Linked DNA regions of Homo sapiens. The protein of the gene in region 2 purifies or fractionates together with the protein of the main gene of each other region. This does not show direct contact. Each region holds a gene or a part of one and is shown on either strand. Other genes may lie near its edges. The genes, in order: NDRG3, FXYD1, ATP6V1D and THNSL1.

What was found.
Region 1: the proteins of FXYD1 (region 2) and NDRG3 purify together in Homo sapiens (affinity purification with mass spectrometry; 2 studies listed by BioGRID and IntAct, with this or other methods). This does not show direct contact.
Region 3: the proteins of FXYD1 (region 2) and ATP6V1D purify together in Homo sapiens (affinity purification with mass spectrometry; 2 studies listed by BioGRID and IntAct, with this or other methods). This does not show direct contact.
Region 4: the proteins of FXYD1 (region 2) and THNSL1 purify together in Homo sapiens (affinity purification with mass spectrometry; 2 studies listed by BioGRID and IntAct, with this or other methods). This does not show direct contact.

Annotation. Positions count from the first base shown.
Region 1 is NC_000020.11:36,743,074-36,750,391, forward strand, and holds the start of NDRG3 (protein NDRG3), read right to left. Parts: upstream 3,018-7,318; 5' UTR 2,972-3,017; exon of another isoform or gene 2,426-2,971; intron 1-2,425.
Region 2 is NC_000019.10:35,134,285-35,141,835, reverse strand, and holds the start of FXYD1 (phospholemman precursor), read right to left. Parts: upstream 3,013-7,551; 5' UTR 2,942-3,012; intron 2,702-2,941; exon of another isoform or gene 2,604-2,701; intron 2,415-2,603; exon of another isoform or gene 2,248-2,414; intron 2,203-2,247; exon of another isoform or gene 2,069-2,202; intron 1,918-2,068; exon of another isoform or gene 1,811-1,917; coding exon of another isoform or gene 1,757-1,810; coding exon 1,696-1,756; intron 1,240-1,695; coding exon 1,207-1,239; intron 705-1,206; coding exon 630-704; intron 301-629; coding exon 264-300; intron 1-263. Other genes in the region: LGI4 (leucine-rich repeat LGI family member 4 precursor), read left to right, coding at 7,156-7,325. UniProt on the Homo sapiens protein: Associates with and regulates the activity of the sodium/potassium-transporting ATPase (NKA) which transports Na(+) out of the cell and K(+) into the cell. Inhibits NKA activity in its unphosphorylated state and stimulates activity when phosphorylated.
Region 3 is NC_000014.9:67,342,801-67,349,823, forward strand, and holds part of ATP6V1D (V-type proton ATPase subunit D), read right to left. Parts: intron 6,305-7,023; coding exon 6,237-6,304; intron 4,654-6,236; coding exon 4,609-4,653; intron 3,072-4,608; coding exon 2,968-3,071; intron 639-2,967; coding exon 572-638; intron 1-571. UniProt on the Homo sapiens protein: Subunit of the V1 complex of vacuolar(H+)-ATPase (V-ATPase), a multisubunit enzyme composed of a peripheral complex (V1) that hydrolyzes ATP and a membrane integral complex (V0) that translocates protons.
Region 4 is NC_000010.11:25,019,607-25,026,629, forward strand, and holds part of THNSL1 (threonine synthase-like 1), read left to right. Parts: intron 1-2,135; 5' UTR 2,136-2,302; intron 2,303-3,569; 5' UTR 3,570-3,617; coding exon 3,618-5,849; 3' UTR 5,850-7,023.

The DNA.
Region 1 (7,318 bases), on a different chromosome or scaffold from region 2:
AGGGGTATAAGCCTCAGACTATCCTACTGCAACATGCAAATGAAAAGTACCCTGTACATCGAAATAGCATATACCAACTCCACTGTAAACAGGCATTTTTCCCTGCTCAGAAGTAACAATTTAGAATAAAACAAAAGCAGCCGGGCTCGGAGGCTCACGCCTGTAATCCCACCACTTTGGGAGGCAGAGGCAGGCGGATCACCTGAGGTCAGGAATTCAAGACCAGCTTGGCCAACATGGTGAAAATCCGTCTCCACTAAAAATACAAAAAATAGCTGGGCATGGTGGCGGGCGCCTGTAATTCCAGCTACTTGGGTGGCTGAGGCAGGAAAATCGCTTGAACCCAGGATGCGGAGGTTGCAGTGAGCCGAGATTGCGCCACTGCACTCCAGCCTGGGCAACAAGAGCGAAACTCCGTCTCAAAAAATAATAATAATAATAATAAAACAAAAGCAGCTCGGCCTGGCTTGGTGGCTCACGCCTGTAATCCCAGCACTATGGGAGGCCGAGGCAGGCGGATCACGAGGTCAGGAAATCGAGACCATCCTGGCTAACACGGTGAAACCCTGTCTCTACTAAAAAAATACAAAAAAAATTAGCTGGGGGTGGTGGCGAGCACCTGTAGTCCCAGCTGCTCAGGAGGCTGAGGCAGGAGAATGGCGTGAATCTGGGAGGCGGAGCTTGCAGTGAGCCGAGATGGCGCCACTGTACTCCAGCCTGGGCAACAGAGCGAGACTCCGTCTCAAAAAACAAACAAAAACAAACAAAAAACAAACAAAAAACAAAAGCAGCTCAATCGTGAGTGCACGTTCAAGTAACATAAACAAGCTTTTTTTTTTTTTTTTTTTTTGAGACGGAGCTCTGTTGCCCAGGCTGGAGTGCAGTGGCGCGATCTCGGCTCACTGCAAGCTCCAGCTCCCGGGTTCACGCCATTCTCCTGCCTCAGCCTCCCGAGTAGCTGGGACTACAGGCGCCCACCACCACACGCGGCTAATTTTCTGTTATTTTTTAGTACAGACGGGGTTTCCCCGTATTAGCCAGGATGGTCTCCATCTCCCGAACTCGTGATCCACCCACCTCGGCCTCCCAAAGTGCTGGGATTACAGGCGTGAGCCGCAGCGCCCGGTCCATAAACAGGCTTTTTGATGCAAGACTCTTATCTGCAAGTTTTCAAAAACAACAGGGTGGATGGAGGCCTTTGAGTGGTAAATGGTGATGACAAGTTTAATCTGAAGGAAGAGACAAGCAAAGAGAAACTGAAGGGCAGGAAGGAGGAACAGAAGGGCACCAGAAGAACACCACGCTTTGAGTAATGAAAAGGGGGGGTGGAAATTAACTGAGTCCTTACCAAGGATCTACTGTGAGCCAGGCATCTGGAGCTGCAAAGATGGACCATGCCCTCAAGGGGCTAGAAGTCCGCAGGGTAAGACTGAGGCTAAGACCCTGTTTTGTGAACGTGTAATTCTAATTGGGAAAATCAAGCAGGGAAGGCTTCACAGAGAAGGTGGTGATTTAGTGGAGCCTTTGAAATGTGGAGGAGGATTTGCTAAGGGAGAAAAACGACAGTTTGAGCTAGTTATTTTGGGGGAGAAACATTCACATATTTTTATAGCTGTTCATTTGGAACTTTAAATCATGGGAGGCTTCTTAAATTCAGCACCACTCTATCAATGTTCTCTTTCTCTTCTTGCTTTATCTTAAATACTGAAATGTTCAAGCCCAACCTTGGGGCAAAGGCAGAAAGCCTCGGACAGAAAGCCCCGGAATGAGGTGAGTGCTAGCCAAATCTGCTCTGTCACCTCCAAGTCCAGCCCGCCCAGCTAGCCCAGTCAGCCCAGTCCTGCTCTCTTGGCAGGAAAGGAAGGCTAATAATATCCCCTGAGGGCCAGGGTAAGGGGGGGGGGGGGCGCGGCGGGGGTGATCTGGATGCCAGCAGGCAAGGATCACTCTTGTTCTGTCAGTAAGCCACCAAAGGAAAGCTTCCCTGCTTCCTAATCCACGGGGCTCCTAGTCTACCTGTGATAGGGAGGCCAGCTCTGCAGGAAGAAAAAAAGGGCTTCATGACAAGGAAGGGGGAAGCATTTGGATTGGGAAGTGCAGAGGTGGTTATGCGAGGTTATCTTAATAAAATGCTTAGCAAGATCCCTGGCACACAGCGAGCGGTGGAAGAACGTTAGCTCTTATATTAATAACACTATTATTATTACAGTAACACCTCAATTGTACTCCGACAACAAGAAAATCTTTTTTGTGCAGCCTACTTTTACGACGTTCGAGAGCAACTTCAGAGATGACAAGTGATTTCAAAATTTTTTCAAAGGTACGAGATCAAATTCCAACCGCACTGGCCTGAGAGCCCGAGACCCTGAGTTGAGAGCTGACCCTGCCACTTGTCAGCTGCGTGACCTTGGGCATGGCACTTCACCTTTCCGTGCCTCAGTTTCCTCGGCTGTTAAGTGGGGCTAAGAAGCCTCTCCCCGGTAGGGTAGTCGTAGGGTCCCGTTAGAGGATGCCCTCTGCTGCTCTGGGGCCGGACGGGTGCAAGGGCTGCTCACGGCCCCTCTTCCAAGCATCTGGGCTCTTGGAGCGGGCGAGGTAGATGGATGAGCAACCCCAAGGCCCACCAAGCTCTGCCGCCTGCAGAGCCAGAGCGAGAGAAGGGTTCGCGCCTGCGGGGGGCGTCCCTGTGACCCAGGGTGTTGAGCCCGGAGGGAGGCTCTCTTGCTACCCACACGCTGTCGCCGGCGGGCTGGGCGCGGGGAGCGGCCGAGGAAAGCCGGGCTGACCTGGGTCCGGCGGGCGGGCGGGGCGGGGCAGAGGGCCCCGGGGGCACGGGGGAGGCAAGCAGCACGGGCCACCAGGGCCTCGCCGTGCCGCGGAGATGATGCGGGGAAGGAGCAGGGCAAAGGAGCGACGCCCCCGAATGCGGCGCCGCGCGCCCCCCGCGGGCCGGGCGGAGGCGCTCACTCACCTGAGGCGCGGGCACCCGCCGTCAGTGCAGCAGCAGCGGCGGCGGCGGCGGCGGCGGCGGCGGCGGCGGCGGCGGCGAGAGGGGCGGGGGAGGTGCTGCGGTCCGCGCAGGCGCGCCGAGGACGCCAGGGCGGCGCATGAGTGCTGTGCCCGTCCACCTCGGGAACTACCGAGAAGATGGTGGCTGAGCCAGGAGAGGCCGGCGGCGCCATCTTTGATGTAGTTTTTCTTGCTGCGGAGTTTCCTCAGAGAAGAATCTCAGATTTTGGAGGCGCTGGGCGGCAGGGCCATTGAGCTCTGCGTCTGGAGCGCTTCCCTCAGTTCCCTGAGTCGCATCCTTATGAAGCCCCTAAGAGCTCTTGCAGGGTATGGCATCCTCCTTTTAAGGTGACCTAGAGCCATACCCAAGGTCACAGGGCGCCTAGCACAGTGCTCGGCACGTGGAAAGAGCTTAGTAAATTTTTGGTGAATGAACATAGTAATTTAAGAACTAGAGTCCAAGACTCAGGGCTCCGAATTACCAGTCCTCCATTGTATCACCCCTATTACAACCGTCAGCCAAATCATCTACTTTCTTGAATGCAACATTAGAGATGGAATTTTTTTTCCCAGAATGATTGCAGATATTAAACTTAATGACCCAACAATTTAACACCAAAATGTACAGGACACACTCTTCCTCTATTTATTATCTATTATTTCTTTACCATTAAGTACCACTGACTAAAAGTTTTTTTGTTTTGTTTTGTTTTGTTTTTTGAGACGGAGTCTCACTCTGTCGCCAGGCTGGAGTGCACTAGCGCGATCTCGGCTCACTGCAACCTCTGCCTCCTGGGTTCAAGCGATTCTCCTGCCTCAGCCTCCCGAGTAGCTGGCACTGTAGGCGTGTGCCACCGGGCCTGGCTAATTTTTCTATTATTAGTAGAGACGGGTTTTCACCGTGTTGGCCAGGATGGTCTCGATCTCTTGACCTCGTCATCTGCCCGCCTCGGCCTCCCAAAGTGCTGGGATTACAGGTGTGTGAGCCACCACGCCCTTTTAACCCGAGCCAGTGTCGCCATCTCGGCTCAGGTTCCCAAGTCCCTCAGCCTCCCAAGTAGCTGGGACTAGAGGCGGGCGCCACCATGCCTGGGTAATTTTTGTATTTTTTTTTTTTTAGTAGAGATGGGGTTTCACCATGTTGGCCAAGCTGGTCTCAAACTCCTGACCTCAAGCAATCCGCCTGCTTCTGCGTCCCAAAGTGCTGGGATTACAGGTGTGAGCCACCACGCCCGGCCACTAAAAGCATATTCTTTTAATTAAGGCAAACTGAACAAATGAATATTACCAAACATCTCAGAGGGCAGCAATAATATTGTTATTCATCAAGCACAATTCTTGAACTGAATTTAGTTGGAAGGAAAACTAACATTAATTGAGCACAGCCATTTATTTTATGGTTTATGTTCGTTAACATTTACTGAATTCAAATTAGTTCTAGTTCACCATCCACTATTTATCCCTATGTCCTTGGTTAGACAATTAAGTCTCTCCACACCTCTCCATGCCCGAATTCCTCATCTATGTCACACACCCAGAAATAGAAGTTACAAGGTTGTGGCAAAGACTGAATGATAATATGCATGTAAAATGCTTAGAGCTCAGTAAGTATTATTTTTCTTTGTTCTATCGTATTTTACTGTTGAAGACACAAAACATACTTCTTGAGTTTGAAGAAATCCTTATAAGCAAAAAATGCAATACAATGTAATAAATAAAAAGGGGGAGGGTATAATCATCTTTAGAGAGATAATCTGTCCCCATTTTACAGATGAGGAAATTGAGGATAAAATGAAAATTCATGGCCGGGCGCAGTGGCTCACGCCTGTAATCCCAGAACTTTGGGAGGCTGAGGCGGGCAGATCATGAGGTCAGGAAATCGAGACCATCCTGGCTAACAAGGTGAAACCCCGTCTCTACTAAAAATACAAAAATTAGCTGGGCGTAGTGGCGGGTGCCTGTAATCCCAGCTACTCGGGAGGCTGAGGCAGGAGAATGGTGTGAACCCGGGAGGCAGAGCTTGCAGTGAGCCGAGATTGCGCTGCTGCACTCCAGCTTGGGCAACAGAGCGAGACTCCGTCTCAAAAAAAAAAAAGAAAAAGGAAAATTCACTCCAACTCTCTCCATTGTACTACTTTGTTTATGAAAGAGTAGGCAATTAAGAGCATTTCTCTGATTCTTGAGATACAGATAGAGATAGATATAGACGAGGGTCTCACCATGTTGCTCAGGCTGGTCTAGAACTCTTGGACTCAAGCAATCCTCCTGCCTAGGCCTCCCAAAGTTCTGGGATTATAGGCATGAGCCACTGTGTCCCGCTCTGCTCTGATTCTTAAATGTTGGATTTCCATGAGACCATCCAAACTTTCCCTTCTTGCTCTACTGTGGACTATATCATTCATTCTCAAGTCATCAAGAACTAGACATCAGCAACTCTCAAATGTTATTTCCAGTCTCGATTTCTCCACCCAGTTCTCCACCTGTGTTATTTGACAGACCAGTTGATTTCTCCATTTGGTATTCCAAATAGAACGAGCTTTCCCATCTCAAATTGCTCCATCATCTACCCACTGTTCAGGCTTCACCTCCTGCAGCATACTGATACCGCTAAACTTTTATATTATTTAATTCTTACAGCATCCCTGTGATATAGGTTCTATAATTCTCTCAACCTTCGAGATAAGAGATTAAATAAATTTTTCAGTCACAGTTAATAAATGGCAGAGTTAGGGGTTTTTTCTTTTTGAGACAGAGTCTTGCTCTGTCATCCAGACTGGAATGCAGTGGCACAATCTCGGCTCACTACAACTTTCACCCCCTCCCGGGTTCCAGCAATTCTCCCACCTCAGCCTCCTGAGTAGTTGGGATTACAGGCACCTGCCATCATGCTTGGCTAATTTTTGTATTTTTGTAGAGATGGGGTTTCACCATGTTGGCCAGGCTGGTCCTGACCTCAGGTGACCCACCCACCTCAGCCTCCCAAAGTGCTGGGATTACAGGCATGAGCCACCATGCCTGGCTAGAGTTAGGTTTTTAACACCTAGGTTACATGCCTATGTTCTAGCCACTGTGGGCAACACGAGCAGTCCCACCCCACTCATCCACTGCCAACACCCAGCACAAGCTGTCATTTCTCTCCTAGACTCCTGCAATAACCTAACTGGTCTCCCACACCCATACCTTGCTATCTTTTCCCCACACCACAACTAGAGTACTCTTTTAAAAATAAAGTTCTGATCTTCTCGCCCTTTCTTGAAGCCTTCTAATGACTTTCAATTATACTTGTCTCAGGCCAGTCTTCTACTGGTGCCCAGCACTCCTGCTTTATTCTTTTTTTTTTTTTTAAGTGTCCCAGCATGCTCCACTGTCCTCCTCAAGCCTTTGAAAATTGCTTCTCCTTTTGCCTGAAATACTTGCCCCATTTAACTCCTTCATCTTTCCCATGTCAGCTAAAATATCTCTTCTGCAGAGTTTTCTCTTGTTCCTTGTATCGTCAGCAAACTGAGCATCATGAGAGAGAACCCATGTGTTTTTGCTCTTTGCTCCCTCCTCCAATCCTAGAACTGTGTGTGGCATATGGCGGGTACTCGGTAAATATATAAAGGAATAAAGAACAAATGTAGGTCCAAGCAAGGAGATGTCATTTCTCATTAACTGGCACTTGCGCCAAGGTTTAAGACTTAAGATTATGACTGGGTGTTTAACTGAAATGGGATTTGTCCCTTTAGTGGGATCAGAGAATAAGAAACATTTTATTTTGGCTGAGCACAGTGGCTCACACTTGTAATCTCAGCATTTTGGGAGGCTGAGGTGGGTGTATATCTTGAGTCCAGTTTGAGACCAGCCTGGGCAACATGGAGAAACCGCATTCCTACGAAAGTACAGAAGTTAGGCCAGGCACGGTGGCTCACGCCTGTAATCCCAGCACTTTGGGAGGCTAAGTTGGGTGGATCACCTAAGGTCAGGAGTTCAAGACCAGCCTGGCCAACATGGTGAAACCCCATCTCTACTAAAAATACAAAAATTAGCCAGGTGTGGTGGTGCATGTGTGGAATCCCAGCTACTCGCAAGGCTGAGGCAGAAGAATCACTTAAATCCGGGAGGCAGAGGTTGCAGTGAGCCAAAATGGCACCACTGCACTCCAGCCTGGGCAACAGAGGGAGACTCTGTCTCAAACAAAACAAAACAAAAATTAGTCAGATGTGGTGGTGCACACCTGTAGTCCCAGCTGTTTGGGAGGCTGAGGTGGAAGAATTGCTTGAGCTCAGGAGGTTGAGGGTCCAGTGAGCCATGAGCATGCCATGGCACT
Region 2 (7,551 bases):
TATCACGCTTTGTGATTTTTCTATCTGTGGGGCTGTTGGAACCCACGGCCACCGCCTCCACTAGGCTGGGAGCTCGGCCAGGAAGGGCGGGAGGTTTTTTCCTCGCTTGGTCCCAGGGCCAGGCTTGGGCCATGGCACATAGTAGGTGCTTAATACATAGTCGCTGACGGGGATCGGGCTGCGGGTCAGGGGTACTCCCCGCCTCACCCGCGGCGCCCTCCAGAGCAGGAGCGGGCGAAGGAGGGCGGGGAGGGGCGTCTTACCTCTGCTGCTGGTTGAACTTGCACCGGCATCTTCTGCCTGTGGGCGTGGAGAGGTAGGAGAAGCTGAGGCTCCCTCCCGGCGGGCGCCAAGCGGCGCTGTAGCTCCAGCTCGCCCTCGCGAGGGGCGGGGCTTGGGGGACGGGGCGGGGCTAGAGGCGAGACCGGGGGCCGGGGAACCAAGGCAGGGTAGGCGGGGCAAGGCCTGGGAGGGGTTGGGGCGGGGCGGGGCCAGGGAGGGGCGGGACCAGGGAGAAGCGGGGCCAGGGAGAGGGGGGCTAGGGAGAGGCGGGGCCAGGGAGAGGCGGGGCCAGAGAGAGGTGGGGCCAGGGAGAGGCGGGGTAGAGGGCGGGAGCTAGGGGCACTCACTCAGCACGATGAGGATGCCCAGGATGAAGAGGATCCCGGCGATGACGAGGCCTCCGATCTGCAGGGACTGGTAGTCTGTGAGCAGCAGAGCAGGGAAGGTGAGGGCAGGGAAGACAGGAGGGAGAATAGGAGAGGGGTAAATTGGGAAGGAGGGAACAGGGAGAAAGGACCAGCAGGCAGAAGGGGGGAAGTAAGATAATTAAGGGGGAGCAGATATGGGAGGAGGAAAGTGGGGTACCAGGGAGAGGAAAGGGGTGTATAGGAAAGGGAGGGAGGGGACAGGGAGGAGGAGGACAGGGGGGAGAGAAGACGGGAAGAAGCAGAGGATGGGCCACGAGATGCTGAGACAGACGCAGGCAAGAGAAAGAGAACCAGAGAGGTATCACATAGACAGTGACACAGATAGACACAGACAGGAAAAGATGCAGACAGGTGGAATCAGAGAGGAAGGACAAAATAGAGGGAAGGAGAATGACAGAGATATCAATACTGGGACTCTGGGGGAGGGCGAGGGGGAATCAAAGGACCAGCAAAGCCAGGCTCTCCCCCAGGACTCAAAATTAGACCCCCCGCTCACCGTAAGTGAACGGGTCGTGTTCCTTTGGACTTTCTGGAAAGAGAGAGAAATCAGGGGTTGAATGCTTCCTGGGGTCCTGGCAGGGAGGGGCATGAGGAGACCACTGGAGGCTCTGCCTTGCTGGGCTTAGAGTCTGAGGGTGTCTGGGCAGGCTGCCCACACTCTCTGGGTCCCAGCTGCCCCCTCTGCACTGTCCCAGATGGGGCAGGTGGCACCTAACTGCCCCAGCTCCCTGACTCACGGCAGGCTGTCTGTGACCCAGTTATCCCATCGGGGATTCAGCCCCATCCCACCCCATCTTTGCCTGATCTGGGGCTTCCTCTCCCCTCCCCCAAATACCAGCCTGTGACTGGACCCCACGTGGAGACCCCCAAACTTCTTGGTACCCCAGCCGACTTAGTCTAGGTTGGGGTCTCCAACTTGGTTCTTCGGTCCCCACCGCCACCCCTGGGGCTGAGGTGGGTAGCGGGCAGCCTCCCCTGCACTCACCTGCCTTGGCCATGGTGAGGAGACCCACACAGAAAACCAAGATGTGGCCAAGAGACGCCATTGTCCTGGGGGGGACACCACGGATTAGGCAGTGTGTGCCCTTGCTCTCCCACATAGGGCTTGAACCCAAGGGATTAAGTCAGAGACAGTCTGGGGACTGAATCACAGAAGTGTTTGTCCTCTATCTTGGTGGCTCCAAGCTAGAGAAACGGGTATCCCCAGCTTCGTGGGGACACAGTGTCACCAAAACAACCTCCACGATGGGATCACACAACAACACAACGTAGCAGGGACGGGGGTGAGACACACAGTCCCCGGGGGGCCTCCCTTGGGCCTCCACCTCCCGCAGCAGGCCCCCGATTCCCAGACCTACCCTGGCAGGGCAGAGGAGGCGCTGCCTCACACAAACACAGAGCAGGAGACAGCAGGGCACGCCCAAGTCCCACCTGCCTACATGCCCGGCCTCACTGTGCCCCGCGAAATCCCAGCTCCCTGCCCTCTCCGCCCGCCCGCTCGCGGCCTGACCCCGGGTATAAATATCTCCCACTTCACCCTGGAGGAATTCTGCTCGCTCAGGCCACCATGGCAACAGCCTGCCTTCCCCCACTCAGGGGGTCACGCACAGCCCTGCCGGGGTGAGGCCCAGCTGCCACATCGCCACAGGCTGCCCCTGTGGGAAAGGTCACCCCGTCTCCTCCCTGGGCAGCAACGAGAAAAGGAAAAGACAGCCCCTCTGCCCGCCTCTGGGTGACATCTTTCACAATCGGATGTCAGGCAAGTGACATGAGGCCCAGCCCAGTGGGCCTTAGAGATAGAAAACACATGCTGGGGCAGGGATACACACACACACACACACACACACACACACACACACACACAGTGGGGCCGGAATGGACATGAACAACAACCTCTCCCCAAACTGCTGGTTGGAGCAGGACGTGGGGTGTAAACACCGTCAGGCATCCAATACTCCTCCTCTGGGCCTCCGGTGCCCCCACGCAGTGACGCAACCAGCCCTACACACGTGTGTGTCCCAACTCCACACCCTGCCAGGGTGCACACGCACCAGCAGGGCAGGGAGGAGTCACCCACATCCCACCCTGCAGAACCCACTGCCTCAACCACACTCCCTCCCTCTTGGGTTGGCCTGCCTGGGAAGCCTCGGGCTGGCCACTCCTGCTCCCAAAATAGGCGGCCCAGCCAGACCAGGGGTGAGGCCTGGAGGGAAGGAGTGGGGGACGCTCACCCCAATCGGGCTGTCCCCTGCTGAAAGAAGGCCCCCAAACGTCCTGCTGTGCCCCGGGGGCTGAGCACTTTGGACCCCCTGGCCCAGAGCTGGACGCGCCGCCCCCAGCAGCCTCCCCTCCCAGCCCCACCCCACCCATGCCCTCCCCAACCAGCAGCTGAAACTGGAGCTGGGGCTGGAGGGGGGCCAGGGGGCGGCCCCCAGCCCAGACTGCCCTGGCCCGCTTGGTTAACTCTCTCAGTTCAGAGAGAGCAGCAGCAGGCAGCCAGCAGGCAGGCTGGAGAGGCTAGGAGGATTGTGGAGGACAGGGTTGTGAACACACACACACACAAACACACACGCCTCCAAGAGCTTTTGGGCTGAGGCGGCTGCCCCCTGGGAACTGGGTCCAGCCAGGGCCGAAGGTCACCCAGCCTGACTGCCCAGGAGCCCACTGACCCCCGATCCCAGTGCTCCGTGAGGTCCTTAACAGGGCTGTTTTAGAGGACGGGAGGGAGGTGTGTGTGTGTGTGTGTGTGTGCGCGCGCATGTGCGCTATCTGCTGTGGTGAGATCCCCAGAAATGCACCACACACACACACCCACACACAATCCCAAAGACCCAGATATACAGGTACAAAACCAGACAAAACCATGTATGTATGTACATCCATAGAAGCAGACACACACAGAATGACACACTGATAGAGAAACCCAAAGACCCGGACACACAGCCAACACCTTTTATGCCAGTCACAAAATACCAGAACAAGCACATTTATGTCTACACAGACCCACGCACGCTCATGTAGATGGATGGCCACACAGAGATACAGTCAAAGACATAGCCACATCACCATCTACACTCACAAACTGGCCACAAAAATGCATGTTTATGTGAAGACCCACCCACAAATGGCCATACAGAAACACACAAGTATGTGCACACCGCACATAAATGCATTCTAAGATGCATGGCCAAACATGGCCAGGTACGGTGGCTCACACCTGTACTCCCAGCACTTTGGGAGGCCAAGGCGGGAGGATCACTTGAGGCCAGGAGTTCAACACCAGCCTGGCCAACCCGACGAGAGCTCGTCTCTACTAAAAAAATATACAAAAATTAGCTGGGTGTGGTGGCGTGCGCCTGTAATCACGGCTACTCCGGAGGCTGAGGCAGGAGAGTCACTTGAGCCCGGGAGGCAGAGCTTGCAGTGAGCTGAGATCATGCCACTGCACTCTAGCCTGGGCAACAGAGCGAGACTCTGTCTCAAAAACAAAAACAAAACAAAAAAACCCCAAAGGTACAGACATGCAGCCAGCACTCCTACATGGTCCCAAAGATAGGAAGGCCAACAAGCTTGTGTACACACAGACAGATTTCCATGGGCACAGATACACAAGCAGAAACACCATCAAGGACAACCCGCCGCTCTCACACATACCCACAAAAGCAGAAACACACACACTGGTTCACACCCTATGCTTGAGCAAACAGGCACATGGTTGGCCACGGTGACAGATGCGCAGGCTGACACACTTGCATGTTCACACATTCCAAAACCACAGATATGTATTTAACCCCACACTTTCCTTCCCCTGAGCTCTTGTCGGGGACAACACACCTGGCGTCCCCATGGGCAGGCCAGGTTTACAGGTCCTGGTGACAGGGAAACCTGGAATGGCCCAGGCACTGCACTCCTGGTTGTGTGAACTTGAGCAGCTCTGTGCCTCATTTTCACATGCTCCAAAATGGAAAAATCACTAAGATCACGTGTATAATCCTGGACAGGGCTCAGAGGTCTCTGAACTTGACATTGTCTTATGATTAACTTCATTTTTTGTTTGTTTGTTTGAGACCGGGTCTTGCTCTGTCACCCAGGCTGAAGTGCAATGGCACAATCATAGCTCACTGTAGCCTCAACCTCATGGGCTCAAGTGATTCTCCCACCTCAGCTTCCTGAGTAGCTGGGACTATGGGCGTGCGACACCATGCCTGGCTAATTTTTTAATTTTTTGTACAGTCGGGGTTTCTCTATGTTGCCCAGGCTTGTCTTGAACTCCTGGCCCCAAGCGATCCTCCCACTTCAGCCTGCCAAAATGTGGGATTACAGAAATGAGCCACCGTGCCTGGCCTATTATTATTGTCCTTGTCATCCTCCTCCTTGTGAACTGGACTGCTGGGCTGGGCACCCTATGAGAGTGGGTTCAGATCCCTCTGTGCCCCTGGCACTCAGCTCTCCAACTTCACTTTCAGGGACCCTGTTTATCATACCCAATAGTCAGTGAAGGAAACTGAGAGCTGACGGGCATGGCTCAAACCACAAGCTGCTGGGGTCTGCTCCTCTAGGAGCTGGATCCGGAGCCCACCCCCAAGCTTGCCGACCACTGTGGGATGCCCACCTTGTGCTGAACCCCAAAAGGATGAGTTGCCTCCATCACCTGAGTCCTCTCCACAACTGGGAAGCGGGTGCCACGATTGTCCCCGTTTGACAGATGGGAAAACTGAGGCCACACAGGACTGGGCCTGGAACCCAGATCTGCATGACCTCCAAGCTGTTAAGCCCCCTTATCCTCCAACGAGGCTTCTGGGCGTGGGCGTCAGTGTCAAGAGAGGCTGCATGCATTCCTCAATCACAGGATGAGTCTCGTCCCCAGGCGATGAGGTGGTACAGCCTAGGGGTTAGGTTTAGAGCTGACTAGAGCCAGGAAACTAATCACATAACTTCCCTGTGCCTCAGTTTCCCCATCTGTAAAGCAGGGATAGCAGTACTGCCCATCTCACAGGGTGGCTGTGAAGGCTGAGTGAGTATAAACATTACTACTATTTCATCTTAGCTAACAAGTGTCATTTACTTATGTTTCTTATTTAGTGGACAGAATCTATCCAAATGACTAAAATTTAGTCCAGATTAAAACAACCAATTATCCATCTATCCATGAACTCTGATCTCCAAAGAAAGAATGCAAAATAACCTGGAGCCGGATGCCTGGGTTTGAATCCCGGCTGTGCCCTCAGCTGGGTAACCTAGAGTTCAGGTTCCCTGACCTCTGTCTCCACTTCCTCCAGCTGTAAAGTGGTGATGATGACAGCACTAACTTCAGAGGGCTTTGGCAAGATCAGAATGAGTTAATAGATGAGCTTTTAGGACAAGGCCAGGCTCAGAGTAGACGCTGAAGAAGGGGTGGCATCATCATCATCATCTTCACCATCATCATCATCTTCATCATCATCATGTCCTCGGGTTGGTGCTGTCCCCCAGTGGGTGTTGGCCACTAGAGGGTTAATTTCAGGGTAGGGGAGGGAGGCTAAGGGCTTGGGGCCGGGCAGAGGTCCTGCCGAGTATGACCACCAGAGGGAGCAGCTGGACGTGATCTGGCCCCACTGACAGCGCCCAACACACCCTCCTGTAGCCAGGGGAGGGGGCTGGCAGAGAGTGGCCAGGACGGGATGTCCCCAGCCCCCCCAGGGCCTCTCCTCCCACCCTGCTCCAGAATGCAGAGCCATCTGGTCCCCACCCTGGTGACATCGTCCTCCTGCTCCCCCAATAGGGTTGAGTGGGGAATCTGGGGAGGGGGCTGGCGGGAGTGGTGGGGCGGCTCCAGCCCTTGGTGGCCCCTCCCCCTCCTGTGGGGCTGTCCAGTCCCTTCCCCCAAGGCCGACCTTCTCATGGCCTCTGACCCCCTCCTCCTTCCCATCCTACTCTGCCGGGTGTGCCGGGTGTCCAGCGAACCCCTTTCCCAAACCTTCGGGGAGAAGGGAGGTGGGAGGAGGCAAAGAAACTACAGGCAGGGAGCTGGAAGGGGGGGTGGGGGGGGCAGGAGACAAGAAATCAAGACACCAGGCAGCAGGACACACACACACTCACATACACTCACACACATAGAGACCAACAGATAGACAGCTACCTAAAGCCTGAAAGACTGACAGCAACACAGAAAAAAAGAAACAGGCAGAAAGAGAGACAAAGACAGAAATAGAAACAGACTAACACACAGAGTCAAAAATACAGAGACAGAAAGACAGGGAGAAAGAGAAACAGAAAATTAGACACCAAAGACATACGAACAGGGAGGAAGGCCGACTGAAAGAAAGACGGAGAAGAGGAGAGAGAAGCCAGGGCCGAGCGTGCCAGCAGGCGGATGGAGGGCGGCCTGGTGGAGGAGGAGACGTAGTGGCCTGGGCTGAGCTGGGTGGGCCGGGAGAAGCGGGTGCCTCAGAGTGGGGGTGGGGGCATGGGAGGGGCAGGCATTCTGCTGCTGCTGCTGGCTGGGGCGGGGGTGGTGGTGGCCTGGAGACCCCCAAAGGGAAAGTGTCCCCTGCGCTGCTCCTGCTCTAAAGACAGCGCCCTGTGTGAGGGCTCCCCGGACCTGCCCGTCAGCTTCTCTCCGACCCTGCTGTCACTGTGAGTGTCCAGCCTTCTGCATGCCCGAAGGTGGGGACGGAAGTCCTGGGACCCCAGAGGTTGGGATGTGGTGCCGGGTCTCCAGGGAAACAGGGGCCCATCAGGATCTCAGGAGATGGGCAGCAAAGCCTGTCGGGATGCCTTGAAGAGGGGTGCTGGCATCTGGGAAGGAGCAGAAGGAAACCCCAGAGGGCAGGGACAGCATTTGGGGCCCAGGAGGAGGGTT
Region 3 (7,023 bases), on a different chromosome or scaffold from region 2:
TTCTTTACTTCAAATTTTGCTTTCTTACCTAAAATTGAGTGTTTCTTTAATAAAAACTAAGTTTATTGAGCAAAAAGTACCATCAACACTAAGCAGTCATATTTTTTAAATAGTGAAATAAAAGAGATGGAAAATAAGTGCATCAAATGGGAAATTTTTTAGAAATCAAGGAGAATGGCTTATACTGATTTAAAGTTAAATATTTAATGTACTCAAAAAGTTGCATCACTCAACCATTAGAAAGAACTACAGAAAACACTAAGGATCTTGAGAAATATTCCTACCCTTAAATAACTGCATGAATAACTGGAAATGAAGAAAACATTCCATAATTTTTAAGTCACCACTTTCCTATGTGTGTAACTCCCCCAGATCATACAAGTACTTCTATCAGAACACTTCATAACACTTTTTTTTTTTACTATGGACACACTTCTCTCTTTGCACTGTGGGCAAGGGAAGCATCTTATTCATCTTTCAGTCTTCAGTACAGTCCCTGAATTCTAGCAGTTTCACGACAAGTGGAGGGTATGGACAAGTGACAAAGCACCTCACAGTACCTAATACTCACCATGTTCAATGGCATTTACACGCCTGTTGGTTATCTTAATAGCTTCATCCAAAGTAACAAAAGAAGTCTAAAATAAGAACAAATTAATAATGTAAGCACAAAGTCTTCCTAATCATTCCCTGATCACTTGACTCCACTAAGACTGCACTTGTAGAAAACATTTGAGAACCAAGACAACTTCTTTTTGGCATGCTTAAAAAACAAAATTCTTAGGCTGGGCGCATGGCTCACGCCTATAACCCCAATACTTTGGGAGGCTGAGGTGGGAGAATCACTTGAAGTTGGGAGTTCAAGACCAGCCTGGGCAACACAATGAGACCTTGCCTCTACAAGAAATAAATTTTAAAAATTAGCTGGGTGTAGTAGCATGCACCTGTAGTCCCAGCTGCTTGGTAATCTGTGATGGGAGGATCGTTTGAGGCTGCAGTGAGCTATTACTGTGCCACTGTACTCCAGCTTGGGTGACAGAGTAAGACCCTGTCTCTTCATAACAAAACAAAAACAAAATTCTTGTGAGATTTCCATAGGGCTAACACTATTTCCATGCTATTGATAACCTACATGTCACATTTGGTAGGTTTCCAAATTAACCTGCCTGGGCAGATTGAGGGATCTTATGATTCATGGTTTACATCCTGTCCCTGAGTAAGGAAATCTTAAGTTTCTCAGACTGCTGACATACTGATTAATATGCAACCTACTGACGCTGAAAATGACACTGATTTGTTTCTGATTCATGAAGTTTTACTTCATGATTTACTTGCATGTAGAACATTTTAGCTTGTATTTGTAATCTGTAGCCAATGATTGTGACCTCTGTATTGTACTCGCCAATGAAAAGGACAACTTGGGTATGAGGAGTCCTCCCTTCTCCTAAACTTTCCCATAAAAGCCTTCCAACTTGTAGCAGACTCTAGAACACACCCAACTTTGTTGGTGTCTTCCCGGGTCAATCCTCACATTTGGCTTTCAATAAACCTTTATCAAATCATTTCTGCTTCAACAGGCTTTACTTGAGTTGACACTATTATAATTTGTTTACTATAGTCTCACCTAAATAACAACATAAAAATGACAAGAAAGAATCAAGCATTAATAACCTAGATATATACTAACTGGCCACATAGGGGAAAAAATGGTCTTCCATGCACAAACGATGTTTATTTACATTTACATTTAAATCTAGTATCAACTTGCTATTCTTACTTAGCAAAGAGTGAAACTGGGCTGGGTGAGGTGGCTCACACTTATAATTCCAGCACTTTGGGAGGCTGAGATGGCAGGATTTCTTGAGGCCAGGAGTTTGAGACCAGCCTGGGCAACGTAGCAAGACCTCATCTCAACTAAAAAATTCAAAAATATTATCCAGGCGAGGTGGCACAAACTTGTAGTCCAAGCTACTTGGGAGGCTGAGGCGGGAGACTGCTTGAGCCCAGGAGATCCAGGCTGCAGTTAGCCAAGATCGCAACACTGCACTCCAGCCTGGGCAACAGAGCAAGATTCTGTCTCAAAGAAAAAAACAAACAAACAAACAAAAAAAACAAGAGTGTACCATAGCACATACATTTTGTTAACAAGAAGAAGCAGGGGCCGGGTGTGGTGGCTCATACCTATAATCCCAGCACTTTGGAAGGATGAGGCGGGCTGATTACTTGAGCCCAGGAGTTCGAGACCAGCCTGGACGACATGGTGAAACCCCACCTCTACAAAAAATACAAAAATTAGCTAGGTGTGATGGGGCATGCCTATAGTCCCAGCTACTCAGGAGGCTGAGGTGGGCGGATCACTTAAGCCCAGGAGGTTAAGGTTGCAGTGAGCTGGGATTATGCCACTGCACTCCAGCCTGGGTGACACAGTGAGACCCCATTTCGAAAAATAAATAAATTTTTAAATTAAAAGTAGGGGCCAGGTGCAGTGGCTCATGCCTGTAATCCTAGCACTTTGGGAGGCCGAGGCGGGTGGATCACCTGAAGTCAGGAGTTCGAGACCAGCCTGACAAACATGGCAAAACCCTGTCTCTACAAAAAATACAAAAGTTAGCCAGGCATGGTGGCACATGTCTGTAATCAGCTACTTGGGAGGCTGAGGCAGAAGAATCACTTGAACCCAGGAGGCAGAGGTTGCAGTGAGCCGAGGTCGCGCCATTGCACTCCAGCCTGGGCAACAAGAGTAAAACTCCATCTCAAAAAAATAAAAAATACATAAATTTTAAAAAGTAGGGACAATGGTACAAAAGCCATCACTTCAGAAATCAAAATATTATGTTTGCTTTACATAGGATCATGGGAACAGTTAAAAGTACAAAGCACAGTATATGCTGACTCAAGACCTGACTCTCCTCCACTTGACTGTTACAAATCAAACTACAGGAGTTCTCCAGGTCTTTTGCTACTTACCTGCAGAGAAGCTAGTTCCACCAGTAGTTCCACTGCTTTGGCATAATTCCTCTTTAATTTAGCCAACTGTTCCCCACCTCTGGCTAAACCAGTCAGTTCATAACCTGAAAGGACCAGTCAGACAACATTTTTAATTAGAGTAAAATATCTTCCCTATAAAATTCCCCAAAAGGAGATAATTCAGAATAATAACAAATATGGAAAGATGAATTCACTAATCTTCATTGAATGTAAACATGAAGTGCCTATCTCACTCCCCAAACACTATAGGAGCATGCTACTAAATACAGTTTCCCACAAGAATACTATTCTAAATATAACTACAAAGGAAGCTTTTAACCAACCTTCACTTCACTAGCTTGATGCCCCTTATTCCCTTTGAAAATCATACTGCCTGATGCCCAGAGTACGATGACACTCTGTGAACAGGTGACTCTCTCTAGAATGCTCTACTTCTTCGTATGAAATGTACTTAATATTCTATATGATTTAATTAAATATCACATGAAGCAAGGAAATACAAGTGCCAAAAGAAAGAATATTATTTGTTTATTTATTTATTGAGATGGGGTCTCACTCTGCCACCCAGGCTGGAGTGCAGTGGTGCGATCTCAGCTCACTGTAAGCTCCACTTCTCAGGCTCAAGCAATCCTCCCACCTCGGCCTCCCGAGTAGCTGGGACCACAGGCGCATGCCACCAGGCCCAGCTAATTTTTGTAACTTTTTGGGTGGAGACGGGGTTTCACCATGTTGCCCAGGCTGGTCTCAAACTCCTGGGCTAAGGTGATCCACCTGCCTCAGCCTCCCAAAGTGCTGGGATTGCAGGTGTGAGCCACTGTGCCTGGCCAAGAATATTGTTTCTATGAAAAAAGTTAATACTTTACTTTGGAAAGAAAATATGCTGTCAAACTAGGAATGGAATGAATAAGACAGTTATTTAAAAAGTGGAAGTGGGCTATAAAAATCTAGAAAGAATCAGCATTCAGGTTGCATCAGTGTCTAAGATCTTATTTGACTTTAAAGAGACCCAAACTGGGAATTATAAGCAGTGCATTGTGGGTGTAGGATATGCAGAAAAACAACACAGAAGTCTAATCAGTGAATTCATATTCAAAAGGCCTTATATTTTTTAAATAGCAAGTGATTCTACATTGATATATTTCTGATAAAATATTGAAATATTTTAAGATATGTATAATGTTTTATGACTTCCTAGCATAAGACCTTTTTCTTTTTTGAGACAAGGTTTTGCTCTGTAGCCCAGGCTGGAGTGCAGTGGCGTGATCAGAACTCGCTGCAACTACCTCCCCAGCTCAAGCAATCCTCCCTCCTCAGCCCTGGAAGTAGCTGAAACTACAGGCACGTGCCACCACACCTGGCTGATTTTTTATATTTTTTGTAGAGATGGAGATTTGCCTGCCTCAGCCTCCCAAAGTGCCAGTATTACAGGCATGAGCCATTGTGCCCGGCCTTAAGACCTTTTGATTAACTGATCAACTATTGTCCTGACTATATCAAATAAGAGGATTTCTAACTCAGGAACCTCTCAACATCTAGCACCATTTTCCAGAACTTAGTTCATTTAAAGAGGAAACAGGAAATCCCAGAGACACAAAGTAATACAAAAAGTTTCACACTTACTGTCAGTTCCTTCATGGTAATGTTCAAATACTGGCAAAGTAACACCTGTTAAACACAGAAGCATACATGGATTCATAAACCTTTAAGTTCTCTCTTTTTTTTTTTTTTCTGAGACGGAGTTTTGCTCTTGTCGCCGAGGCTGGAATGCAATGGCGTGATCTCGCCTCACCGCAACCTCTGCCTCCCAGGTTCAAGCAATTCTCCTGGTCAGCCTCCTGAATAGGTGGGATTACAGGCATGCACCACCACACCCGGCTAATTTTGTATTTTTAGTAGACACGGGGTTTCTCCATGTTGGTAAGGTTGGTCTTGAACTTCCGACCTCAGGTGATCCACCCGCCTAAACCTCCCAAAGTGCTGGGATTACAGGTATGAGCCACCGCGCCTGGCCTAAATTCTGTTTCTTAATCACTGTTTTCTGTGTTTCTTTTTCATCAAACTCAAAAATCAAGAGCTTAAGTATGGAATTGTAATTGGTTTCAATTAATGAATTTAGGAACTTGCCTTCTTTTTTTTTTTTTGAGACAGAGTCTCACTCTGTCGCCCAGGCTGCAGTGCAGTGGTGTGGTCTTCAGCTCACTGCAACCACCGCCTCCTGGGGTCAAGTGATTCTCCCACCTCAGCCTCCTGAGTAGCTGGGACAACAGGCACATGCCATGCCCAGCTAATTTTTTTTTTTTTTTAAAGATGAGTTTCGCTCTTGTTGCCTGGGCTGGAGTACAATGGCGCAATCTCGGCTCACCACAACCTCTGCCTCCTGGGTCCAAGTGAGTCTCCTGCCTCAGCCTCTCAAGTAGCTGGGATTACAGGCATGCGCTACCACGTCTGGCTTATTTTGTATTTTTAGTAGAGACAGGATTTCTCCATATTAGGCTGGTCTCGAACTCCCGACCTCAGGCGATCCGCCCACCTTGGCTTCCCAAAGCACTGGGATTACAGGTGTGAGCCATCACACCCGGCCTAATTTTTGTATTCTTTGGTAAAGATGGGGTTTCACCATGTTGGCCAGGCTGGTCTCGAACTCCTGACCTTGTGATCCGCCCACCTCAGCCTCCCAAAGTGCTGGGATTACAGGTGTGAGCCACCACATCCAGTGGAACCTGACTTCTTTATTTTTTTATTTTTTATTTTTAGACAGAGTCTTGCTCTGTCACCCAGGCTGGAGTGCAGTGGTGCAATCTCGGCTCACTGGAACCTCCGCTTCCCGGGTTCAAGCGATTCTCCTGCCTCAGCCTCCCAAGTAGCTGGGGCTACAGGCGCGTGCCACCAAACCTGGCTAATTTTTGTATTATTAGTAGAGATGGGGTTTCACCATGTTGGCCAGGCTGGTCTCGAACTCCTGACCTTGTGATTCGCCCACCTCGGCCTCCCAAAGTGCTGGGATTACAGGCATGAGCCACCGTGCCCAGCCGGAACCTGCCTTCTTAAGTGTTCACTTCTATACAAAAGTCAAGTTATCCTGAGTAATTAGAAACCTGGTTGTTAATGATTTTAACATGTAAAGCCAATCAACTTGTTCTAAGTAGAAGGAAGAAACTAGGACATTAAGATCTTGCTGTATAAACAGGTTAATTTTAAAATGTCACCTCTTTTCTCCCCAAAGGGTTTCTAAAAGGTTGAAACGTTACCTGCTACATTATCTTTCTTCGCTCGAATCTTCACTTGCGCTTTATTGACATTTTGGATAACTGTAGTGCTGCAGAAAAAGAGAAAGACTTTATTTAGCAGACTCTTCAGAAATAAACCTACAGGGACCCACTGGATAGTTTTAACATTAAATGAGACCAAGAGTGAGATGTCACAATTAAGTATGTTTTGATAACTGTCCTTTTTCCAAAAAGGGAGAAAAGTCATTACTGCTAGAGGAGGGCCTCTGAAAGCAGAGAATGAACAATATTCAAAACATTAGCAGTAAGAAAAGAACAAAGAATGATTTTAAAGTTCGTGGATTGCTTATGTTTTCAGTCAGAGGTGTGCTACATGGATATAACTTTAAGGATTCTTCTGCTAGTGTGAGATAGAGAAAACTCCTTTCTAGGTTTGCTATTGAATTGGTTAAGCTGGCGTTCAATTCCTTTACCCTGGAAACTATGTTCCATCTGGCTTTGTGTGACTTCTCAAATGTTACCAGAAAGTGCCTTCCTGGCAGGGTGCGATAGCTCACGCCTGTAATCCTGGCACTTTGGGAGGCCGAGGCAGGAGGATTGTTTGAGGCCAGGAGTTCAAAACCAGCCTGGGCAATGTGGTGAAACTCAAAAATACAAAAATTAGCCAGTCTCATAACCCAATCTCAAAACAAAACAAAAATAAATATTATAGAAAGTATCTTCCCCATAACCACCCTAAAACACTCACATACCACTTATACACTATTGATTGATCTCCACCCTCTGCTAGAAAATTCAATGCAAGCTG
Region 4 (7,023 bases), on a different chromosome or scaffold from region 2:
CAGGAGGATGTGCACAGGTTATATGCAAATACTACACCATTTTATATAAAGGACTTGCACATCTGCAGATTTTTCTCACTCTAAAGTCAGTCCTATTAACTGCTAATTATCCAATATCCCTCTCAATGCTTAATCCAAATAATTGTTAAACACATGAAAGAGAAGAGTGTCAAGACCAAAAGCCTTGGAGTGCACTACCAGAAATTTCCCTCTATTCAACAGAACCATTTTTATGATCATTCAACAATATCCTCAAATCTTTTTTTTCCATTTCTCCGTGAATTAAAAAAATTTTAAATGAACCATGTGTAATGCTTTGGTGAAGTCCATATATATGCCTTCTATGTATATTCCCGAGTGGCCATTGCAGCAGACGTTCTCAAAAAAGAAATGAGGATGTCTTTTCCTCATTTGGTTGGTTAAAAAATGTTGAGCCCCTAAAATCAATTTGTGGTTAAATGTTACAAAATAAAATTTAGTATGTAGCTTAAAATAGAATATATCTTTATTGTTCTTTAGAAATAATATATATTATAGCACTTAACTGCCTTCTGCTAGTCTAAGGAACATGTTTGTGGGAAATAATATTGATACAGAATTTACAAATTGAACTGTCATAATTTTCTTTAAAATATATCTATATCTATATCTATATCTATATCTATATCTATATATATCTACCCCAAAGTCTTGAAAAAGGGAAGTGAAGTAAAATTTAAAAACAAGAGGGTAGAGGGGAACTAACATATAGGAAAAGTAAGATTGCAAAACATAAGGTGAAGGTAACATAATGTTTCCTTACAATCTACTTTTAATGAAGTTGATGTTAAGCATGGTAGCAAGCAATATAAAGCGGAAGAAAAGATGAAAGATTTACTGGGCCAGTATGGTGGTTCATGCCTCTAATCCCAGCACTTTGGGAGGCCAAAGTGGGAGGATTGCTTGAGTTCAGGAGTTCGAGATCAGTCTGGGCAACATGGTGAAACCCTGTCTCTAGAAAACCTACAAAAATTAGCTGGGTGTGGTGATGCACACCTGGTGGGAGGATCACCTGAGCCCAGGAGGTTGAGGCTGCAGTGAGCTGAGATCATGCCACTGCACTCCAGCCTGGGTGACAGTGGAAGACCCTTTCTCAAAAAAAAAAAAAAAATTACTGCTCATGAAAACCATCTACTCAGATTATATACAATTATTACTAATACAGGTATCAGAAAGTTATGTATTGCAAACTCAAAAAGAAGAAACTGTAATGTTACAAGCAAAAGCTTCCTGAATAGGAGGTTAATCAGACTGTTTTATGTAAGTGCCCTAAAAGCAGTTTGTGCTTTTAAAGTCCAGTACCAGAATATGGTTTAATAAAATAAATTGATGTTATGGTTCAAGTATATAATTCTTTCTGGTCCCTGGTTTACTTCAGGGAAAGGATTAGACTGTGCATGGCAAAACAGTTCTTGATTCGTGGGTGAACACCACGGTATTCTCTGAAGGTTTATAAACCAAACCATAAAAAAAATGCACCCTGCCTTGTACCTACATATTTGGGTTCAATTTATATATTCCTAGCCCACTGTCAGTGAGTGACAATGATTAATCTTACTGTAAATATTTTGTGCTAACCACTATGATATGTGCTTTGATTTTATTATAGACACTTATATAGCTAAGAGGTATCTTTTTGTGGCAAGAGTTTTATTTGGGCTTTTTATAGTGGATATTATTACATATGAATATATAGTGATTTTGATAGATAATATAGCCTAAAAAACAACTCAGACACTAATTTCATAGCTTTAGTCTGCTGACTTTTTCCCCTCTGATCATTATACAGCCAAATCATTAAAATTCCAGATATCCTTCTGAAAAGTTTTATATTTGTTATTATTTGGTTTTTTATTGCTTGATGGTAGAAATTCCTTCAGTACTGTTTAGTGAAATTCTTTTTATAATGAGACACACATGTTTAAAAACAGTATTTTAATCTTCTAATAACAGATTTGGGGAAACATATGAAAAGGGTCAATTTTTCTGTATTTTTAAAATTTCAGATGAGCTTTTCAAATAATAGACTAGTCTATGTGTAGAATTTTATGATACTCTATACAGTTATGATTAACTTAAATTTTTTTCCATTATAGACTCCACGTTTTGCAAAGATCGGTTTTGCCTCAGAGTCAACAAACTCTTCAGATTGGTTCCGGTGTGTCCTATGTTTACAAGTCAGTGGAAATTAAGCACAACACATATAAATTGAAAAGTCAAATAAGGAAATGAATTACCTCCCTTGACGGCTCTAATTTTACTTGTAAGTTAAATTCAGAGTTAGCTTAAAATCATTTAAATGTTTAATTACAGAACAGAGTTTAAGTAGCATAGAAAGTCAGTATTACATGATTAAAAGTTTTCAGAACATATTTTAACATATGATCTAGTATTTAATATGGTTTAGTTGCATATTGCTTCTACCAGAGAACACGTGATAAGCCCCACTATGTGTCTGTGACATTACTTCAGGCAATTTACATGAACATTGCACAGGTATTATACTGCATTTTACGTAACTAAAAACTTGACTTGTCTGGCATACATTTTTGTTTTAATGGTGAGTATATTTCCAAAGACAAGGACTTGGTCAATATGGGAAATTATAGAGCTTCTTTGGATGCCAGAATAATTGTTGTCTCTCATCATTGGAAACATTCCTGAGGTTCTTGGCTGTGGCCCTGGGGTCTGGAAATTGAGTTAAATCTCTCCACTGATGATTATAGGGTTAGAAACAAAAGTGATGGTTCTGTGCAGATAAGGTTATATGTAGCCTTTGACCTCATTGCTGATTATTAATTTTTCTTAACTATTTGTATAATATACCTTTCACCTTGGCTCTTTTTAAAGCCTTCAATATGAATAATATGTAACAATGATTCTTAATATGCGTGTAAAAGGCACATAAGAAAGAAAATGTCATACCTTTGTCCTGTAGTTTGGAAAACTAAGCATTTTATAAGCAAATATGTTCTTTTATTCTGGTTTCCTGTTATGACTTCTATAAGAAATTTATGAGTAATATAGTCTGTCACAATGTTCATATAACTGAAGAGAAATTAAATATAAAGAATATTGTTCAACTTTTGTGAATTGCAAGTAGATAGCACTCCAACTCCAAATCATCTTTATATGTGATATAAACTGATAAACCATGAAATAATTTTCATTAAAAGATCTCAATATGAAAAGAAATAGTAATTTGATTTAGTGTATATATACTTTTAAAAGCATCTACAATCTGGCACTTTGTGAATACAAGTTTCTGTTTTTTATAGTTACAAATTTTGTCAAAGTTTTGATTTTTCAGTGTCTTGAGATTTTAAAAGATATCATTAAAAGGATAATATGCAATATATAAGAATTTGGGTTGGAATACTTTTTTTAATTCCATAAGTTTGGAAGATTTTTAAACAGTTTATGTACCATGGGCATGGTTATATTCAGTCCTATTGGGATTTTAACAATCTACTGTAATTAGTAACCAAATTATCTTTTGTTGTTTTTTGTTTGTTTTGTGTTTTGAAAAGGGCTAAAGCCAATTTTTAGGTTGGCTTGGGCAGAAAAGTGAAAAGAGAATGCTCCACTTTAACCGATGTCATCATCTGAAAAAGATAACACAGAAATGTTTTTCTAGTATACATGTTAAAACGGATAAACATGCACAGCGATTTCTTTCAAGAACCTTTGCACTTGCGGAATTGAGGAAGTCATGGTATTCAACCCACTCTCTTGTTGGAGACAAAAATATTATCCTGATGGGACCTCCTGGTGCTGGGAAAACAACAGTAGGCAGAATAATAGGTCAGAAACTAGGTTGTTGTGTCATAGATGTGGATGATGATATCCTTGAAAAAACCTGGAATATGAGTGTGTCTGAAAAATTACAGGATGTTGGTAATGAGCAATTTTTAGAAGAGGAAGGAAAAGCTGTGTTAAACTTCTCTGCATCTGGAAGTGTGATTTCCCTTACTGGGTCCAATCCAATGCATGATGCTAGCATGTGGCATCTGAAGAAAAATGGAATAATTGTATACCTGGATGTACCTCTACTAGATCTAATTTGTCGTCTAAAATTAATGAAGACAGATAGGATTGTAGGTCAGAATTCTGGAACATCTATGAAAGACTTACTTAAATTTAGAAGACAGTATTATAAGAAGTGGTATGATGCTCGTGTTTTCTGTGAAAGTGGGGCTTCCCCAGAGGAGGTAGCTGACAAAGTGCTGAATGCAATTAAAAGATACCAAGATGTGGACTCGGAAACATTCATTTCAACAAGACACGTTTGGCCTGAAGACTGTGAACAGAAGGTTTCAGCAAAATTCTTTAGTGAAGCTGTAATTGAGGGGTTGGCTTCTGATGGTGGCCTCTTTGTTCCTGCAAAGGAGTTTCCAAAATTAAGCTGCGGGGAGTGGAAAAGCCTAGTAGGAGCAACCTACGTAGAAAGAGCACAGATACTGTTGGAAAGATGTATCCATCCTGCAGACATACCTGCTGCCAGGTTGGGAGAAATGATTGAAACTGCTTATGGGGAAAACTTTGCCTGCTCAAAAATTGCTCCTGTCAGGCACCTTTCAGGCAACCAGTTCATCCTGGAGTTGTTTCATGGACCAACAGGATCATTTAAAGATTTGTCTTTACAGCTTATGCCTCATATTTTTGCACACTGTATCCCACCAAGTTGCAATTATATGATACTTGTAGCTACTTCAGGAGACACAGGGAGTGCAGTCTTAAATGGTTTTAGTCGTCTAAATAAGAATGATAAGCAAAGGATAGCTGTGGTTGCATTTTTTCCTGAGAATGGAGTAAGTGATTTTCAAAAAGCACAAATAATTGGCAGTCAGAGAGAAAATGGATGGGCAGTGGGTGTTGAGTCAGATTTTGATTTTTGCCAGACAGCTATAAAAAGAATTTTTAATGATTCTGATTTTACTGGCTTTCTTACTGTGGAATATGGAACAATCTTAAGTTCGGCTAACTCCATAAACTGGGGCCGACTACTTCCGCAGGTAGTTTATCATGCTTCCGCATATCTTGATCTTGTTAGTCAAGGATTTATTTCTTTTGGAAGCCCAGTCGATGTCTGTATTCCCACAGGAAACTTTGGTAACATTTTAGCAGCAGTGTATGCCAAAATGATGGGAATCCCGATTCGAAAATTTATCTGTGCCTCTAATCAGAACCATGTTTTGACTGATTTTATAAAAACAGGACATTATGATCTAAGGGAAAGAAAACTAGCACAAACCTTTTCACCGTCAATAGATATTCTCAAATCTTCAAACCTAGAACGACATTTACACTTGATGGCTAATAAAGATGGACAGCTAATGACAGAATTATTTAATCGATTAGAAAGTCAGCATCATTTCCAGATAGAAAAGGCTCTAGTTGAGAAACTTCAGCAGGATTTTGTAGCTGACTGGTGCTCTGAGGGAGAGTGCCTAGCAGCTATTAACTCCACCTATAATACTTCAGGGTATATTTTGGATCCACACACTGCTGTTGCAAAAGTGGTTGCAGATAGGGTGCAAGACAAAACTTGCCCTGTGATTATCTCATCTACAGCCCATTACTCAAAGTTTGCACCTGCTATCATGCAGGCTTTAAAGATTAAAGAAATCAATGAGACTTCATCAAGTCAGCTCTATTTGCTGGGTTCATACAATGCATTACCTCCACTGCATGAGGCTTTATTAGAGAGAACAAAACAGCAAGAGAAGATGGAGTACCAGGTCTGTGCAGCTGATATGAATGTCTTGAAGAGTCATGTGGAACAACTTGTCCAAAATCAATTCATATGAAAGCTTTCAGAGTAAATTTTTTTTTCTAGCTATAAGCATGCAATAATAAATCTCAAACACTGATTTGGAGTACAGTAGCATTTTGTCTTTTATGTAAATATCTCTATATCTGTTTGGAATTTCAAAAGTCTGATCTCTAGGGCTGACATGAGAACTCCATGTCACCTCCTCAGATCTTTAATCTGGAAGTGACAAAAGGTAACACAGTGCACGGACCTTTGAGCTATCATACTTTTGCCTTCTGCTCATGAGGGGTGTATCAATTTCCACTCCCACACCCTCACTGTTATGTGGACCAAAATGTCTGGTATACTATTTGGCGATTAAAATATTTAAGCCCAGTTTTCAGGTACTACATCTGTAACTAGTGAATACTCTGTTGATTAGAAAGTTAATTTACCACTCAAAATGGCTAACTTGAATGGAGGAAGTAGTAAACTCTTCTATTAGGATTTGGGCCAGTGTTTTTTGTTTGTTTTTTGGTGCAGTTTCAGCTCACTGCAACCTCCGCCTCCCAGGTTCAAGTGATTCTCCTGCCTCAGCCTCCCAGGTAGCTGGGATTACAGGCATGCAACACCACACATGGCTAATTTTTTTATTTTTAATAGAGATGAGGTTTCGCCATGTTTTCCAGGCTGATCTTGAACCTCTGACCTCAGGTGATCCATCCACCTCGGCCTCCCAAAGTGCTAGGATTACAGGCGTGAGCCTCTGCACCTGGCTAGGGCCAGTGTTTTTAACCCTCCTCAAATTCCATTTTGGACTACAACTAATGTGTATCTCACACTGTCCAAATTAAAGATGTACTCTGTCCTTCACTCTCCTTTGGATGTGTACGGTTAGGGTGACGATGTTTGAAAATCAACACATAACTGAAATCCAGGATGAAACAGTAAGCAGAACTACTTAGAAGTGAATACAGAAATGATCTATTTCAAGAGGAAGGTTTTCCAAAATTAAGAGTACTTGAGTAGTCTCAATAGGAGTGTATTTGTAGACAGCAGTTTCCCTATATTATTTGGAGTCAATTCTTACGTAATTTGTTGTTTATTTCTTCAGTGAACATTGTCTTTTTCTGGCAGCTGAAACTGCACACAACTGATACACATATTTAATTTGTATTCCTTTGTAGTAATACATTTTAACCATGATTTATGTTTGTGAATTTACTGGA